Linked DNA regions of Homo sapiens. The protein of the gene in region 4 purifies or fractionates together with the protein of the main gene of each other region. This does not show direct contact. Each region holds a gene or a part of one and is shown on either strand. Other genes may lie near its edges. The genes, in order: DDX51, URB1, DDX47 and NOL8.

What was found.
Region 1: the proteins of NOL8 (region 4) and DDX51 purify together in Homo sapiens (affinity purification with mass spectrometry; 2 studies listed by BioGRID and IntAct, with this or other methods). This does not show direct contact.
Region 2: the proteins of NOL8 (region 4) and URB1 purify together in Homo sapiens (affinity purification with mass spectrometry; 2 studies listed by BioGRID and IntAct, with this or other methods). This does not show direct contact.
Region 3: the proteins of NOL8 (region 4) and DDX47 purify together in Homo sapiens (affinity purification with mass spectrometry; one large-scale study listed by BioGRID and IntAct). This does not show direct contact.

The regions. Positions count from the first base shown.
Region 1 is NC_000012.12:132,135,553-132,139,384, forward strand, and holds the end of DDX51 (ATP-dependent RNA helicase DDX51), read right to left. Parts: intron 3,747-3,832; coding exon 3,720-3,746; 3' UTR 1,042-3,719; downstream 1-1,041. UniProt on the Homo sapiens protein: ATP-binding RNA helicase involved in the biogenesis of 60S ribosomal subunits.
Region 2 is NC_000021.9:32,385,656-32,390,374, forward strand, and holds part of URB1 (nucleolar pre-ribosomal-associated protein 1), read right to left. Parts: intron 30-4,719; coding exon 1-29.
Region 3 is NC_000012.12:12,819,334-12,824,052, forward strand, and holds part of DDX47 (probable ATP-dependent RNA helicase DDX47), read left to right. Parts: intron 1-1,874; coding exon 1,875-2,063; intron 2,064-2,321; coding exon 2,322-2,393; intron 2,394-2,631; coding exon 2,632-2,750; intron 2,751-3,327; coding exon 3,328-3,399; intron 3,400-3,869; coding exon 3,870-3,986; intron 3,987-4,536; coding exon 4,537-4,683; intron 4,684-4,719. UniProt on the Homo sapiens protein: Required for efficient ribosome biogenesis. May have a role in mRNA splicing. Involved in apoptosis.
Region 4 is NC_000009.12:92,304,165-92,308,883, reverse strand, and holds part of NOL8 (nucleolar protein 8), read left to right. Parts: intron 1-1,859; coding exon 1,860-1,998; intron 1,999-3,053; coding exon 3,054-3,131; coding exon of another isoform or gene 3,132-3,135; exon of another isoform or gene 3,136-3,136; intron 3,137-4,719. UniProt on the Homo sapiens protein: Plays an essential role in the survival of diffuse-type gastric cancer cells. Acts as a nucleolar anchoring protein for DDX47. May be involved in regulation of gene expression at the post-transcriptional level or in ribosome biogenesis in cancer cells.

The DNA.
Region 1 (3,832 bases), on a different chromosome or scaffold from region 4:
CCGCTCCTCCCACCTCCCGAGTGTGCCCACGGTGCCCACTCCTCCCACCTCCCGAGTGTGCCCACGGTGCCCGCTCCTCCCACCTCCCCGAGTGTGCCCACGGTGCCCGCTCCTCCCACCTCCCCGAGTGTGCCCACGGTGCCCGCTCCTCCCACCTCCCCGAGTGTGCCCACGGTGCCCGCTCCTCCCACCTCCCGAGTGTGCCCCGGTGCCCGCTCCTCCCACCTCCCGAGTGTGCCCCGGTGCCCGCTCCTCCCACCTCCCGAGTGTGCCCCGGTGCCCGCTCCTCCCACCTCCCGAGTGTGCCCACGGTGCCCGCTCCTCCCACCTCCCGAGTGTGCCCCGGTGCCCGCTCCTCCCACCTCCCGAGTGTGCCCCGGTGCCCGCTCCTCCCACCTCCCGAGTGTGCCCACGGTGCCCGCTCCTCCCACCTCCCCGAGTGTGCCCACGGTGCCCGCTCCTCCCACCTCCCGAGTGTGCCCCGGTGCCCGCTCCTCCCACCTCCCCGAGTGTGCCCACGGTGCCCGCTCCTCCCACCTCCCCGAGTGTGCCCACGGTGCCCGCTCCTCCCACCTCCCCGAGTGTGCCCACGGTGCCCGCTCCTCCCACCTCCCCGAGTGTGCCCACGGTGCCCGCTCCTCCCACCTCCCGAGTGTGCCCCGGTGCCCGCTCCTCCCACCTCCCGAGTGTGCCCACGGTGCCCGCTCCTCCCACCTCCCCGAGTGTGCCCACGGTGCCCGCTACCTCCCACCTCCCGAGTGTGCCCACGGTGCCCGCTCCTCCCACCTCCCGAGTGTGCCCACGGTGCCCGCTCCTCCCACCTCCCCGAGTGTGCCCACGGTGCCCGCTCCTCCCACCTCCCGAGTGTGTGGCCAGGCCCACATCTTATGTCTGCGAACCCAGCAGCACTGAGCCACTATCAATCCCCGATAAATGGCAATCATCGTGAAGCAGCCTTGTGGTCTGGGGTAAATACCAAGGTTCTTGGTCTCATGGCCAAGGAGATCGAGGTCGCAGACAGACACACACACACACAGTGAGTTTGGAGCAGAAGTTTAATAAGCAAAAAGGAAGAAGAGCTCTCCGTTGCAGAGGGGGCCTGAGCGGGTTGCTAAGTTGTAGTAAAGATGTCAAGGTTTCTTTTTTTTCTGTCGCCAGGCTGCAGTGCAGTGGGCTGATCTTGGCCCACTGCAACCTCCACCTCCCGGGCAAGTGATTCTCCTGCCTCAGCCTCTTGAGTAGTTGGGACTCCAGGCACACGCCACCACGCTCAGCTAAGTTTTGTATTTTTAGTAGAGATGGGGTTTCACCATGTTGGCCAGGATGGTCTCGATCTCCTGACCTCAGGTGATGCGCCTGCCTCAGCCTCCCAAAGTGCTGGGATTACAGGTGTGAGCCACCGTGCCCGGCCTGTCAAGGTTTTTACAAATGGGCTAGTGACGAGGGGTTAGAGGAGGGATGTCTTGTCCTCCCAGGGCCCAGGGTTTTAGCTGGGACAAGGTGTGCTATTTGTATAGAGAGTTTCTGTCAGACTCAGTCTGTGCTGCTCTGTGACACTTTTCTGCGAGGGTCTCTGGGTCTGCTCCCAGACATCTTCTTGGGGTTACAGGCACCCCTCAGTCTGCTTTTAGCTTCCCTTAGTGCACCTAAGGGGACGGGAATGTGCTTATTAGGGTCCACTGTTTTACTGGGGCCCATTGTGGAAGTGTGAAGTTTGGTGATCACCCAGGAGACACCCCCCGCACTCCTGTGCCCGAGCTGTCTCATCTGTGATTCACAGTCTGCTCTTTCTGGCTGCTTGTCGTGAGAAGTGATTTTGAACCCCGAGGTTAGAAAGGGAGCTATTTTTGAGCTGCTTTTTGTTAAAAGGCAAATTTTCTGCTGGGGACTGGCTTTACCCCGTCTACCTAAATCATTTCTTTCTGCCTCCTGTAACAGTCGCCTTTTGTGTTCTGCTGGCATTTGTTTGAACACAGTCCACAGGTTCAGTGGTTGCATCTCTAATCAGCTGCCAGTCCCCATCCCAGACATTCTTTGCATCTAAGCTGAGGTCTGAACTGAGTGGGGTGGGCTGGTGTTTCCATCCTCACAACTCCAGTGAGCCGGGTGTGGCCGTGGCCTGCGTCTCCCTGGCGGTTAGTGATGTTGGCATCATCCACCTTTTTCAAACAAAGCACTGGACTGAGAGAATTCACACACTGTATCCACCCAGTCCATGGTTTTTAGTAAAAGGTTTATAGAGGTGAGCAGCCATCACCACACACAACCTAAGAACATTTTCATCATCCCCAAAACAAACCCACACACTGGCCACTGTGTCCCCAGCCCCAACCCCCACCAACTCCCGGCCCCGGCACCCTTCAATCTCTGGCTGTGCCTGGGACACTCCCTATAGCCGGAGCCTTCCTTCAGTTAGCGTCAGGTTCCGGGTTCATCCACGGGGTGCCTATGCTGGTGCCTCACTCCTTTTTCTCTCCTGGTGTGGATTTCCCACGTTTTATTCTCCATTCATCAGCTGACGGACATGTGGTTTCTAGTTTTTGGCTACTGTGAACAGTGCTGCTGAGAGATTTGTGTACGTTTCTGTGTGGATGTAGGTTTCATTGATCTGGGGTGTACAAGGTGCATAGGAGAGGAAGTGCTGGGTCATGAGTGACTCTGTGTTTAACGCCCCAAGGCTTTGCCCAGCTGTCTCCACGTGACCTTCCCACCAGCAATATGTGAGGTGTCCACTGAACAGTCACAAGGTTCACAAATCTGGGGAGGAGAGCTTTTTTTTTGACGGAGTCTCACTCTGTTGCCCAGGCTGGAGTGCAGTGGCGCAGTCTCCGCTCACTGCAAGCTCCGCCTCCCGGGTTCACGCCATTCTCCTGCCTCAGCCTCCCGAGTAGCTGGGACTATAGGTGCCCGCCACCACGCCCGGCTAGTTGTTTTTTTTTTTTTTTTGTATTTTTAGTAGAGACGGGGTTTCACCATGTTAGCAATGATGGTCTCTATCTCCTGACCTTGTGATCCACCTGCCTCGGCCTCCCAAAGTGCTGGGATTACAGGCATTTGCCACCGCGCCCGGCAATTTTTTTTTTTGAGACGGAGTTTTGCTCTTGTTGCCCAGGCTGGAGTGCAGTGGCGCAATCTCAGCTCACTGCAACCTCCACCTCCCGGGTTCAAGCCATTTTCCTGCCTCAGCCTCCCAAGTAGCTGGATTACAGGCATGCACCACCACGCCTGGCTAATTTTGTATTTTTAGTAGAGACAGGGTTTCTCCATGTTGGTCAGGCTGGTCTCGAACTCGTGACCTCAGGTGATCCACCCGCCTTGGCCTCCCAAAGTGCTGGAATTACAGGCATGAGCCACCATGCCTGGCCAAGAGCTTGATTTTTAACATTAGCTCAAGGTTAATGCCCCCAACTCTCAGCAAAAGCATGACGGGTGCCCGCGTCCGTCTGGGAGTACTTTTCACCGTTTTACTAAGGCTTCATTGCCCGCAGCCATCCTGACCTCCACACTCTGAAAGTGACAAGCCCTGAAGTCTCCAGTCGGGGCAGGTGCTTGAGCTCTGACGCCCGGGCTGCCTGGCGCAGAGACCACGTGCTTGGGGAGGAAGGCTGTGTCCACTGGGGGATTCCTTTCCTCACATACAGGATCCAGTGATCAGCACTGCTCTGGAAGGAGGGTCAGGGTGGTGAGCGTTCAGTCCCTCCGGCCCTCTGAGCCCCAGCCTAGGCCGCCCTCTGCTTGCGCTCTTCCTGTGGAGGAAAGGGGAGGGCTCAGCACCACACACTCTGTCCCCTCATCGTCTGTGGGGCCCCGGGCTCTGCCCCTGGAACCCTGA
Region 2 (4,719 bases), on a different chromosome or scaffold from region 4:
CTTGGCAGCAGACACAAACGCTTCCAAGCCTGAAAAAAAAGTTATGTTCAAACATTAACAAGGTCAGTCTTCTTAGAAACAATCACAGCCACCACTGCAACCTGCTTTCCCTATTCTGTGACCTTCCCCGATCCACCTACACTGCACAGAAGCTACTATGAATGCTATCAACTTAACTGTTTCTCTCCAAAATTCATGTTGAAACCCTAAACCCGGCCGGGCGCGGTGGCTCACGCCTGTAATCCCAGCACTTTGGGAGGCTAAGGCAGGCAGATCACCTGAGGTCAGGAGTTCAAGACCAGCCTGGCCAACATGGTGAAACCCCCTCTCTACTAAAAATACAAAAATTAGCCAGGTGTGGTGGCACATATCTGTAGTCCCAGCTACTTGGGAGGCTGAGGCAGAATTGTGTGAACTCAGGAGGCAGAGGTTACAGTGAGCCGAGATCGCGCCATTGCACCCCAGCCTAGGTGACAGAGCAAGACTCTGTCTCAGGAAAAAAAAAAAAAAAGAAAGAAAGAAACCCTAAGCCCTAAAAAGACAGTATTTGGAGATATAGTCTTTTAGGAGATAACTCAGGTTAAGTGAGTTCATGAGGGTGAGGTCCTGATCTAACAGGACTGGTGTCCTTAGAGGAGAAGGAGACATCAGAGAGCTCCCTCTCTGCATGTGGATAGAGGAAAGGCCATGTGAGGACACAGCAAGAGGGCAGTTGTCTGCAAGCCAGGACGTGCCCTTACCAGGATGTGACTATGCCAATGCCTTGATCGCGGACGTGGCCTTCAGAACTGTGAGGAAATAAATTCCTCTTGTTTAAGCCACCCAGTCTATGGTATTTTGTTATGGCTGCCCTAGTAGATTAATCCACAAGGACATTATGAACACACTTAGAAACCATGAAGGCAATAAGGAATGAGACAAACTGAGTGCCAATGTGACTCCCAGGTTTGACTACTGAGTCTGGCAATGACTCGTCTGGATCCCCATAGAGCTTTTGTTCCCTCAACTGTAGAATGGGTATAACAAGAAAAACCATATAGAGCATGGTAACGAAACATTACCAAGAGCTTTACTTACATGACATCAGCTAATTCTCACTGCAACCCTCCACCCTAGGTATGAGTATTTTTTTCCCTAGGTACTAGTATTTCACAGATGAGAAAACTGAGGCCCTTGTCCAAAGGTACACAGCTTAGGAGAGGTAGAGCCAGGACTCCAATCCAGGCAGTCGGGCTCCAGAGCCCATATTCTCCCTCCACGAACTGGATGATTCCTGCTCATGCAATGGAGCTGATGCCTGTTGCTCTGAGTGCACTGGCACACAGAGTGTCCGTGCTGCACCTGGCCCACAGTCAGTATGCCAAGCATCAGTTGACATCAGTGCTCTTTCAAAACCCAAAGGAGGGCACCCCACTAGAGTGTTTCCCCATAAGGCCACCCCAGAAGTTCCCCACTCAAAAATCTCCCCTCTCAACAGCCTGAGGATTCTACTACCCTTCCTGCAATTAATACAACCTCCCCTCCCCTACCACTGACACCTGAATCTGAACCCCCACCACAACCCCACCCTACCAACTGGGAGCCACCTGTGTGCCGCTGCCCACAGAATTCTCCTGCCAGAACCTGTTCTATAAAACTGCCTTTCAGAGAATCACTTGAACCTGCCTCTCGGAGAATCACTTGAATCCGGGAGGTGGAAGTTGCAGTGAGTCGAGATCGTGCCACTGCACTCTAGCCTGGCAACAGAGTGAGACTCCGTCTCAAAAACAAAACAAAACAAAAAAAACCCTGCCTCTCTCTGGTTCCACTCTTTGGGCCATACTTCTCAAAACTAGGAAGGCAGGGCATGGCAGTGGGTTGGAAGCCGCATGAGAGCGTAAGCTAAAGGTAACACATCTTACTGAGGCCTTCATCTCTTCTGGGGAGTGAAGACTTCACCTTATTCAAAAAAAAAAAAAAAAAAAGCAGAGGAAGGGACTAAATATTTCTATTAAAACCCACTTAGTAATGACCAATACAGTAAAATGTAAAATGCCACAAACTTTAAGAAATACACTACAGTCTTCATAGACACATCAGAATAGCGTGGTCTGCTTTAGGGAGTGTCTGGGCATCCCTAAGGGGTCCTTCCTTCTCTGCCTTGGGGCCACAGGCAATGGATCTAATCCTTCTTTCCCACACCAGCTGCCATCACCCTAGTCAGCACCTCTGAACACCAAACACTTCCTTTAACCTCTCTCCAGAAATGAGAGTTTCGAGATCCTTCTGTGTTCAGGTCACTCTCTATGTTCCCTTGAAGCATGAGGCCCAGAACAGGGCTTGGTACTGCAGGTGAGCTCCACTAGCTGAGCAGAGAGGACCAACACATGCTTCCTCTTGGACAGCAATTCTGCGTGTCTCAGATTCAAGTCCTGACGCTGCTAAGCCACATCTGCCGGGGACGCATGAGCACGCCATTACACCAAAAACATACCAGAAAAGAACAAAATTGGAGCCAGACTCCTGGGCACAAATCCCCGCTCAGTCACTTACTAGCTGCATGGTACTCAGTAAGGCACTGAACTCTGAGCTCTGGGTACCTCACCTGTATAACGGAACAAGAACAGAACCTACCTGACAGGGTTTGTATGAAGCGTAAAAAGGCTAATTTACACATAAAGCATCCAGCATCACACTTAGGTCAAGGTAAACCCTCAAAACATAAGCAGCCCCCCGGGTGTCCTCAGCAGCAGCAGTGAAAATCCAGTCACATTCGGCCTCTGCCAGCCTCACAGGTGTTTTCAGATCCCCTTTTATGCTGCAACATTTTCCGCAGCAACCACCGCCATTCCTTTAACAGTCACTGAGCAAGTGCATCTGCTATGCCAGGCGCTGCTCTGAGCTTCGGGGCCAGACTCCATTGCTGCCGTCTGCAGCGTGGTCTGGTGGTGATTATGAGCAGGCCATGGGTGTTCTGACCAAGGTGACTGTGAGTTACAGGAGCTCAGTCGGCACAGGCACCCTGGAGTTATGCATACCTACTCTGTCCCTCAAGAAAACACAGAATGCAAGTGATAGCAAGGGCTGTTAATACAGAAAGAGCAGTGCAACTACTCACTCTTTTTTAAGGAATTATTCGTCAAACTCTAGCATGTAACTCTGAGCATTCCAGAGTATTACAGGGTGGAAACTGCTGGCCTGTTATGTTTGCCGTCTTTACAGGTTCATCTTTCCATACACCATTTACTGGGCACCTACCAGGTGCACCTACAGGGGGTGCCCGAGACGTGCTGATGAGCAAATTAGAAATGGCCTCTACCCACATGGTCCTTACAATCTAATGATAGAGACCAATGTGAGTATTTATTAAGCACCTACCGCAATCACTTACATAGACACGTATAGCACCTGTAGTAAGTGCTATGAAGCAAACATCAAGAGTATAATGAGGACTGTACCTAGGGAACATGATCTAGATTAGAGGGTTGGGAAGGTTTCCTTTGAAGAAGTAATGCTGAACCTATTATTAATAATAGTAAACGTAAGTATTGAGGGGGCAGAGGGTGAGACCACATTCCAGGCCCCAAGGCTGGAGGGTACACTGGAGCCAGGTGAGTGGGGAGGGGTGACTGAGTGAGTGGGGGAGGGCAGCCTGAGATGAAGTCAAAGAAGCAGGCAGGGCTAGATGAAGCAATGGAAATGACTTTGGATTTTATCCTAAGGGCAGTGGGATACCACTGAAGGGTGTCATGAGAGGAGTGACATAATCAGATTTGGAGCTCTGAAGGATCATTTGACTGCTGCACACAGCACGGGCTGCAGGGAAGCAACAGCAAGAGAGACCAACTCTGGGCAACTCCAGCCACGGTCCCAGCAGGGACTGATGATGCCTGGACTAGAATGATGATGAAGGAAAGAGGGGGAGCAGACAGATTCCAGAAATTCTCAGGAGGAGAATCAACCACCAAGGCCAGGGGACAGACTGATGCAGACGGAGGGTTCTGGCAGGAACATCCAGCTAATCAGAATTACCACTTATGCAGTGGGGAAACCAGAAGCAATGTGGGGAGAAGGAGATCAAGAGTTTAACCATTAGTGTACTCTCTTACAGTATGGCCTTTTCTCTATCACCAGTGGAGTCGTGGGCAAACACTTTCAAAGGAACTGGCTTAGAGCCAAACCCTTCTTGATGGGGGATCTTCCCACAGGCTGACACTGATCCACTCTGGAATATCCTCAGTCCTTACCAATCTAACCTGGCAGCTCTTGTTCCTCCACTACACGAAGGGAGCATCATCAGAACCCTTCCCTCACATGCCTGGTGAAAACAAAGTCTCCTAACAGCCATCAACTTCACTTCCCTGATCTTCCAGCAATCCTATCATAGGTTATGAGAGCGTATAAAGAGGAAGAGAGGAGGAGAGAATCCAAGATACAGACCAGATTCAAACACAAGTTCAACACAGCCTCAAACAAGGGATCCACACTTTCACCCATTGACTCAGCTTTGCCCCATCTTTCAACTACTCACCTACACCCATGCCCTGTCAACCTGGGTCTCCTTCTGACATGTGTTCAAATGATGTAGCACCTGAATGTCATGAGGCTCTCTGTGCAAGACCATGAAATATAGATACTACATCTTTTTAACAATTAAACGTGCTCTTTCTTCTGCCAGTAAGGTTCCTGTCCCTGTCCCATCCTACAATCCTTTTGAAAAGCCACTTCCTCTGATGGCCA
Region 3 (4,719 bases), on a different chromosome or scaffold from region 4:
GAATCATCTATGGAGCTTTTTTTTTTTTTTTAAATAGAGATTTCTAGGTCCCAGCCAAGACCTACTGAATCAGAATTTCCAGGCATGGGACCGGGCATATATATATATGTAAGTCTCATCGATTATTCTGAAGCATCTGCCCCTGAGGAAGTACCAGTGGTAGGATACTCATGGCTCCCATGTCTGTTCTAACCCCCACTTTTTTCCTGAGCTCCAAACAAGTATGTCCAGCTGGTTTTTAGACATACCTCCAAATAATTATGCCCAACTGGTTTTTAGACATATCTCTAAACAAGTATGTCCAACTGGTTTTTAGACATATCTCTTTGAGTTTACTATAGGAATCTTAAGTTCCAAGTTCCCTGTGTGGAAACCAAAGTCCTTATTTTCCTCACCAGGACTAATTTTTCTGTTGCCTATATTGCAGTTTTTGGCTTTTGAGTGTCCCGTACTAAAAATGTGTGAGTCACCCACATTTCCTTTTGTTAGTTTCTGAATCTCATTCCTGTGCTCATTCCTGGCCTCAGTTCAGGCCACCATCATATCTCCCCTGAATTACATCCAATGTCCCAGTTAAGCCTTTGTTTTCCCTGTTCTGGTCATTTAAGTCATTTCTGATTGTAAGTCATGTTCAGGTTATGTCAGGGAAAAGAGATTTGTTTATTGTAGGATTATCTTCTAGGTAAAGAAAACTTCTCAGCAGTTACACAGTCAGAACAGGGGCAGCAACTGTAGGGGTCATGATTTAATAGGGAGCATTCTCACTGGCCACTGTGGTAGTGCATAGCTACCTCATGGGCTACAGCCAGCTCGGAGATAGTGATCTCAACTCAGGAGTTAATTTCCAAGTCTTATGAGTTGTGGCTTGAGTGGTGATAGCAAACAGTGGTGACCTGTTCTTAAAGAATTACTTAGAGCATTCTTCCCTCAGAAGGAGCAGTAACTGGCATGCACTGTTAAGTTCCTTGGCTCCTCCTTATGCCATCAGGTCTAGAGTTTATCTTCCTAAACAGTAATATTGATCATGATATTCCCTGTTTAAAATCCTTTAATTCTTTCTTATAGGAAAACATCAAAACTCTAGCCTCATTCTTCCCTCTTTCTCCCTTAACACTTCTGTGTTCCAGCCACATTGTACTTCTCAGCCTAACTATGCATGCTATGTTCTTTTTATTTTTTGAGATGGAGTTTCGCTCTTGTTGCCCAGGCTGGAGTGCAGTGGCACGATCTCCGCTCACCGCTGCCGCAACCTCCGCCTCCCGGGTTCAAGCAATACTCCTGCCTCAGCCTTCCGAGTAGCTGGGATTACAGGCATGCACCACCATGCCCGCCTAATTTTGTATTTTTAGTAGAGACAGGGTTTTTCCTTGTTGGTCAGACTGGTCTCGAACTCCCAACCTCAGGTGATCTGCCTGGCTCGGCCTCCCAAACTGCTGGGGTTACAGGCGTGAGCTACCATGCCCAGCCAGCATGCTATGTTCTCTAAAGCCTTAATTCTCTTTCCTCTTACAGGAATATCCTTTCTTCCCTTCTTTGCTTACTTCCAGTTTTAACTCACTTATCACCTCTGTTAGCCTTTTCTGACTCTTCTGGGCAGTAGTTACTTTTCCTTGTGTTCTCGCTGTATTTTGCAGGGGCTTATATTAAAACTCTTATCACATTATAATGCATTTGTATATTTGTCTGTCTCACCACTGGGTTTTGAGCTTATCTAAGAGAGAGGCCATGTCTTTTCTGTTTATTCAACTTTCCTCTCTCCCCAGTTCATCAGATATTTATTAAGCGTCTACTTTGTGCCCAGCATTGTGTCATTGTAGAAAACACAGAAATAGCGCAAAGAGATTACTTGGCTGTTGAATTTCTTTTTCTTTTAGGTCGTGATATCATTGGGCTTGCAGAAACTGGCTCTGGAAAGACAGGCGCCTTTGCTTTGCCCATTCTAAACGCACTGCTGGAGACCCCGCAGCGTTTGTTTGCCCTAGTTCTTACCCCGACTCGGGAGCTGGCCTTTCAGATCTCAGAGCAGTTTGAAGCCCTGGGGTCCTCTATTGGAGTGCAGAGTGGTAAGTGTCTGAGAGGGAAGGGATCCTAGGTTGCCATCACAAGTGAAGAATGAGTGTGGAGGAAGGAGAATGGAGGAAAGTATTGCTAGCATAATTTATTGACCTAAAGAGCTAATGTTGTATTTGAGCTTTGGGAAGAGTATTAATTGTAAGGGAAGAACAAATCTAAGTAGAAATCTGGCATTGGCTTTAAAAGATGTTCAGTGGACTGTGGAAAAAATTAAGGATCTCGTCTCTATGTTCTTTTTTTCTCTGTAGCTGTGATTGTAGGTGGAATTGATTCAATGTCTCAATCTTTGGCCCTTGCAAAAAAACCACATATAATAATAGGTGAGTAACTGACAAAGGTAAAAGACACTGGCAGTGATGAATTGGAGAAAATCTACCAGTGTTGGATAGAAAGACTTTGAGAAACAGATTTTGTAACCCTGTTAAATTTTTTAATTTCTTAAGTTAAATTTGGTGGAGAGCTGTGGGGTGGGGCAGATAACTTTATTTGTTTATTTGTTTTGTTTTTTTTTTGTCCTGTTCTGAAATGTCACTGTTTCTCCTCAACCTTTCTTGGTAGCAACTCCTGGTCGACTGATTGACCACTTGGAAAATACGAAAGGTTTCAACTTGAGAGCTCTCAAATACTTGGTCATGGATGAAGCCGACCGAATACTGAATATGGATTTTGAGACAGAGGTGAGCTCTCAATTTCTTTCCTCCTCTTAGAGCATCTCAAGGTTCCTGTTTCAAAATTTGGTTCATTGCCCACTTGTTTCATGTAGAACATTGCATTAGTATCAGTTTCATTCTTGATATTCTTCAAATTGCAGTTTCTCAGCACCCTTTTATCTTTAGAATATAGTCTGACTCTGACTTCAGAAATGGGAAATATCAAAACCGGATTTTCTTTTCCCTTTCGTTTAATTTAGACCTTGACATACACCCTGAAATATCTTTATTTTCTTTGATGACCCACTAATCCCAGCTTACTTAGTTGATTAATACTTTTTCTTGACTTTTCTCTTAAATCAGCTCTGGTCTACTAATTTAAACTGTTCTTTTCTCAGAAAGGTATTTTTTTTAATAGTATTTGGTAGGGTATCAGATAGTAAATATTCAGTAAACTTTAGCTGAATCAAATTGAATTTTCGAGTCCCAAATCTTCACAGTGATATATTTAGTTTGTTAGTGTCTACCTCCTTCACTACCTAGAGGATTTGCAGCTCTTCCAGTCTGAATATCATATTGGCATCTTTTCCTCTTTGTGCTTTAGGTTGACAAGATCCTCAAAGTGATTCCTCGAGATCGGAAAACATTCCTCTTCTCTGCCACCATGACCAAGAAGGTGAAATTTGCTAGGACTTTTGTTTCTTCTTTATGAGAATTGATACATAAAGTAAATAGTAATAACAATAAGGAAAAATAAATTGCTTTAGTCCGTTTTCACACTGCTATAAAGAACTATCTGAGACTAGGTAATTTATACAGAAAAGAGGTTTAATTGACTCACAGTTCCACATGGCTGGGAAGACCTCAGGAAACTTACAATTATGGCAGAAGGTGAAGGGGAAGCAAGGCAGGAGGTGGGGGCAGTGCCACACTTTAAAACCATGAGAAATTGTGAGAACTCACTATCATGAGAACCGCAATGGGGAAAACCACCTCTGTGATCCAATAACCTCCCACCAGGTCCCTCCCGTGACATGTGGGGATTACAATTCAACATGAGATTTGGGTGAGGACACAGAGCCAAACCATGTCATAAATAAAGAGTGTTTAGGCATCAGTGTGCTATTCTGGATCTTCTTCCTTCAGGTTCAAAAACTTCAGCGAGCAGCTCTGAAGAATCCTGTGAAATGTGCCGTTTCCTCTAAATACCAGACAGTTGAAAAATTACAGCAATATTATATTTTTATTCCCTCTAAATTCAAGGTAAAATGTTTACTTTGATCATTCCTGCCTCTCCCTCTTCTTTTCACCAAAGCATCTGAAAATGTGTCAACTCTTGATTAGGTAAGAGCTGTAATGCAGATTGGCATCCTGTCTGTTTGCTTTAGAGTGCATATCGTGCTTATATTATCACCGATAAGCCAGACATGCCAGGAATTCACAACACATTAAATCACAATACTGAGGTCATGATGTAATCATATAATTCCTTCCCATCCCCATCCTTGAGGTAATTTTTCCTTTGTCTGCTTATTATGTGGCTTTTATTTAGGATGAAGCCCCTGGTTTTGTGCTTTGATATAAGGACTTCTCCTGTTTGCTGAGTACAGATCTCCTGCCTGCCTTAAGGCTAAGTGGGGAATATGTGGTTCACAGAGATGATAATGCTGGTTAAGGAATGCAAAGCTGGCAGCTGGAGGTCTGGATAATTGAAAAGCGACTATAGGCTTAGTCTTTACCTTATGTATATGCCAGGTCTCCAATCCTGTCTCCCAGGTTCAATGACATATATTGTTTTGGGTTTGTAACTTAGGATACCTACCTGGTTTATATTCTAAATGAATTGGCTGGAAACTCCTTTATGATATTCTGCAGCACCTGTAATAATACCCAGAGAACAGCTTTGCTACTGCGAAATCTTGGCTTCACTGCCATCCCCCTCCATGGACAAATGAGTCAGGTAAGGATTCATCATCATCATCAGCCATGCACTGGT
Region 4 (4,719 bases):
CTTCTGCCAATTTTGTCTGTTTCTTTACAACTCTTTGGGTGTGTGTTCCCTCAAAGCCGTAAACAACTTGTCCTCCAAGTGCAGTGGCATTGTCTCCAATGACATCCTCTTCAGCTAACCTAGAGCATATGTCACTGTTGATCATCCCTTCTTGAAATGTTCACTTTGCTTCCAATTGCATCATAACTTCCTGGTTTTCTTAACTCTTTATTCCTAATTTTTCTTTTGCCTCCAAATATGGGTTCTTCCCAGGGTTCTGTAAGTCCCTATAGCTTTAGCCTTCACTTGCACATGAGTATTTTTCAAATTTGGATCTTCTTTCTTCCTTGCTGTTCTGCTGAGCTCCCAACTGGTCTTAAACGCCTGTTGGATATTTTCCACAGGCTTTCCTGAGTTTGTGTTAAAACTCAGCAAGTCCAAACCAGCTCTTCTTAACCTTTCTGCGTTGATGGCGTGTCCATTCTTAGAATCTCTGTTGTTGTTTTTTTCTTTCCTTCTCAACATTTTATTTTTATTTTTTTGGAGACAGGATCTCACTGTGTTCCTCAGGCTGGAGTGCAGTGGCACAGTCATAGCTTACTGTAACCTCAAACTCAGTCTCTCTAGTAGCTAGGACTACAGGCATGTGCCACCATGTCCAGCTAATTTTTGTATTTTCATAGAGACAGGGTCTCGCTGTGTTGCCTAGGCGGGTCTCAAACTCCTGGCCTCAAGTGATCCTCCTGCCTCAGCTTCCCAAAGTGCTGAGATTATAGGCATGGAACCACTGCACCAGACCCCTTCCCAAATTTTGAGGCACAACGTTTTGTCTCAAGTAAGCAGCACAGCCAGCCTATATCACCTTGAGCCTTTTTCAGCATTATAATCTACTTCCCTAATGCTTATTAGATTAAAATTTAAATTGATGTTTTTGATAGTCAAAAGTTGTTGAAATTAGCAGTTTCAACCTAATGCAGTGTAAACTTTTTGTACTTTATTATTTCAATATATGTGTTCGTTTTGTTTCCAACACCTAGCATGCTTTCCTACCACCTCTAGGGATTCAACTCTATCTTTCCTACCTCATAACTTTACCTAGTTTATAAAGCATCTTTTGATTCAGTTAAACACTATCTCAACTTCCTTTGAACCCTTAGAAACTTTGGGGGCATCCCTGTAGAGTACTTAAATTAGCATTTTATTCTAGTTTCTGTTAGTTGGTTATTTATATCCTGCAGTAAGTTGAAAGAGTCATACAGGCTTAGACTACTTTTGTATTTCTGTAATCCAAACTAGCTGTTTAACTTTATTCTGTGATATTTTGTCTGTTTGTAGTAGTTGAGGATAGTAGCTTGTAAAAGTCCATGATGCCTTAGTATGTGTAGGGCATATGGTTTTTTTCCCATAATACTTGTTATTGAATCAAAGACTGAAACAACTATCCACTAATATCTTATATTGTCAGATATACCATTACCATTTTTCACTCTTTATCATTTTTAGATTTACGTAATTTAGATTATGTTTAGAATGTTAAAAAAATCAAAGAGTCTATAATCACTGTAGTTATTAGTATCTTGCTCTATTACATTTGTCGATCTTTACCTTAAAAGTTTTAGACTTGCTACTGAAAGCCATTAAATTCAGACTTTCATAATTAGGAACAGAAGTAGGACTTTTCATTGTCTGGTCACGCAGACTTTCTGAGTTTGCTATGACTGAGGGTCTTTGGTTATGGAGGTTAGTGAAATGAGGTTAAAGTTTCTTCTTCCTGTCTTAATGGATTTTGAACATGTTTAGGTACTTGGTAAATATTTGATGATTGAGACTTCTCAGGCTGTGTTTTCCAAGAGAGTATTAATTATCCCTTTTCCTCAAAGAGGTAAATGAAAAGAAAACTGCTGAGGAAGAAGAGCTTGCTGAAGAAAAAAAGAAAGCCCTGAATGTTGTACAAAGTGTTTTGCAAATCAACTTAAGCAATTCTACAAACAGAGGATCAGTAGCTGCTAAGAAATTTAAGTATGTTTTATGTTCCATCCCATTCTACCATATCATCCTTTGCCATAAATGTCTTCTTGAACTCAATTTAAAACTAGGTCTCTTTTAATGGCCTGGGGAGGCAGCTGGCAATATGTATCAGACCCTTAAAAATATACTTGCCTTTGACCCAGTGATTCACTTCAAGGAACTAATCTTAAATTATTTCTGTATTTATACACTTAGATGTCATAGCAGCATCGCTTTCATTAGTGAAACAAATGGGAAACAGTTTAAATAGTAACTGTAAAAGTATTTATATAAACGTAACTGTTATGGAAATTTTCAGGCATGAAATTTAGAGAGACTAATGAAAGCCCTGTATACCATCATTACCTGTACACCAGGTAATGAAAGCCCTGTACACCATCACCTAGCTTTTACAGTCACCAACATGTGACCAGTGTTCTCTTCTATACCTTTATCCAACCCCTACTTTACACAATGAAATGTTTTATGCAAATCCCAGATAGTATATCATTTTATCTGTATGTATTTTAGTATGTTTAAAATCATTTTAAAAGCTAAAAAAATCCAGGAAATCTCAAAAGTAGGTAGTTTAAAATATTTTTTCGGCTGGGCATGGTGGCTCACACCTGTGATCCTAGCACTTTGGGAGGCTAAGGTGGGCGGATCACCTGAGATCAGGAGTTGGAGAGCAGCCTGGCCAACATGGTGAAACCCCGTCTCTACTAAAAATATAAAAATTAGCCGGGCATGGTGGCACATGCCTGTAATCCCAGCTACTTGGGAGGCTGAGGCAGGAGAATCGCTTGAACTTGGGAGGCGGAGGTTGCAGTGAGCCAAGATCACGCCATTGCACTCCAGCCTGGGCAACACAGCGAGACTCTGTCTCCAAGAAAAATCTATGTATATGTTATTTCTAGTAAGATCCTAGTTATCTTATCTGATGTTATATGGCTTCTTCTTGCTGCAAAATTAGAATCTTCCTAGTGCTGAATTATAATTTGCTACTTACTTTTTGTATTAGTGTTCTGTTTTTATCTCTTCCAACCTCCCTTCCTTTTTTTACATAGGGACATCATACATTATGATCCAACGAAGCAAGACCATGCCACTTACGAAAGAAAAAGAGATGATAAGCCAAAAGAAAGGTAAGTAGAGCTACTTCTTTTAGCAATAGGATCATGTAAATTAATCTCATTTCAGACAATTAAAAATGTAGGTAGGAACCAATATCCTACTCATTGGTCCCACTGTATTAAGATTGGTGGGGTAGGGGTAGTGCAGGTAGAGTTAGAAAGGAATTATTGATGTGGTGGAGGAGGTCTTACCTTTTAACAGAGGAATCTATAAATGATATGTACTCCTATCATTTATACCTTTTATTTGTATAAATGATGCCTTTTATTTGTACTAGTTTCTTGTGTCTTCTGTAGCTACCACAAACTTAGTTACTTAAAATCACAAAAATTATTTCTTTACAGTTCTGGAACCTAGAAGTCCCAAATTAAGATAGTGAACAGGTTATGTTCCTTCTAGAGGTTCAGGGAAACAAAGCTGTTTTATGCCTCTCCTAGTTTCTAGTGACTGCCACCAATCCTTTGGTGTTCCTTGGCTTGAGACTACATTACTCCCATTTCTGCCTCTATCTTCACATGGCCTCTTCTTTTCTGTCTCTCCTCTTTGTGCCTCTTATAAGGACACTTGTGATAGCATTCAGGGCCCACTTGGATAATCCTGGATGGGCTCCTCATCCTAGGACCCTTAACTTAATATCTCTGCAAGACCCCTTATCTAAATAATGTTAACATTCACAGGTTTCAGGAATTAGGACATGGACATAGCTTTTGGGGGGCAACCATTCAACCATCTAGTGTGGTAGGAGCTTCTGTTTCCTATAGATGTGCAGTCAGTTGGATAAACATGGCAAATATATGGAGCAACCAGTAGCAGCTTGGTTTAAATCCTTCATTTTCCAACTGCTAATAGCCACGAAAATCACAAAAGGCAGTGTGGTATCCTGAATTGAATCTTGAAACAACAGGACAATTTGTGGAGAAACTAGTGAAATCAAAACAATGTCTGAGTTTAGTTAGTGGTAATCTACCAATGTTAATCTTCTAATTTTGACAATTATATCCTAGTTACATACACACATAATTACATTAGGGAAAACAAAGTGAAGGCTATTTAGGAACTCTACTATTTTCGTTACTTTCTGTAAACCTAAAATTGTTCCAAAATTATTCTTTTAAAAAGAATCACATTTTAGACTAAAGTAGAATATTAATATTCCCTCCAATGTAGGATATATGTGTGTTATTTCAGATAATCCGTATTGAACAAATAGGATATGTTTACCCCCTCCCTATACCCCTAAGAAGTCTCATCCCTTTACATCAGCTCAAAATCCAGGATGTCATCATTCAGATCAGATCTAAGTACAGATGAGGCTTCTCTGTTATTCCTTGAGTACAGTACCTTGAGTGCAGTTCTGTTTGATAAGACCTATGAACTAAAAAAGCAAGTTATCTACCCTTCCTCCAATATAGAGCGGTGGAACAGGCATTGGATAACCACTATAGGTACTGTTCAATGAAAGAAAACAGGCACAAAGGAGTCACATGTCCATAGTAACTCTGAAATCTAGACAGACAAATGTTGGAAGGTCTTTGATTAGGACTGAGGGCCTAGGAATAATTCTTCCTGACCGTTGACTTGGCTTTCTGGATCATCCTT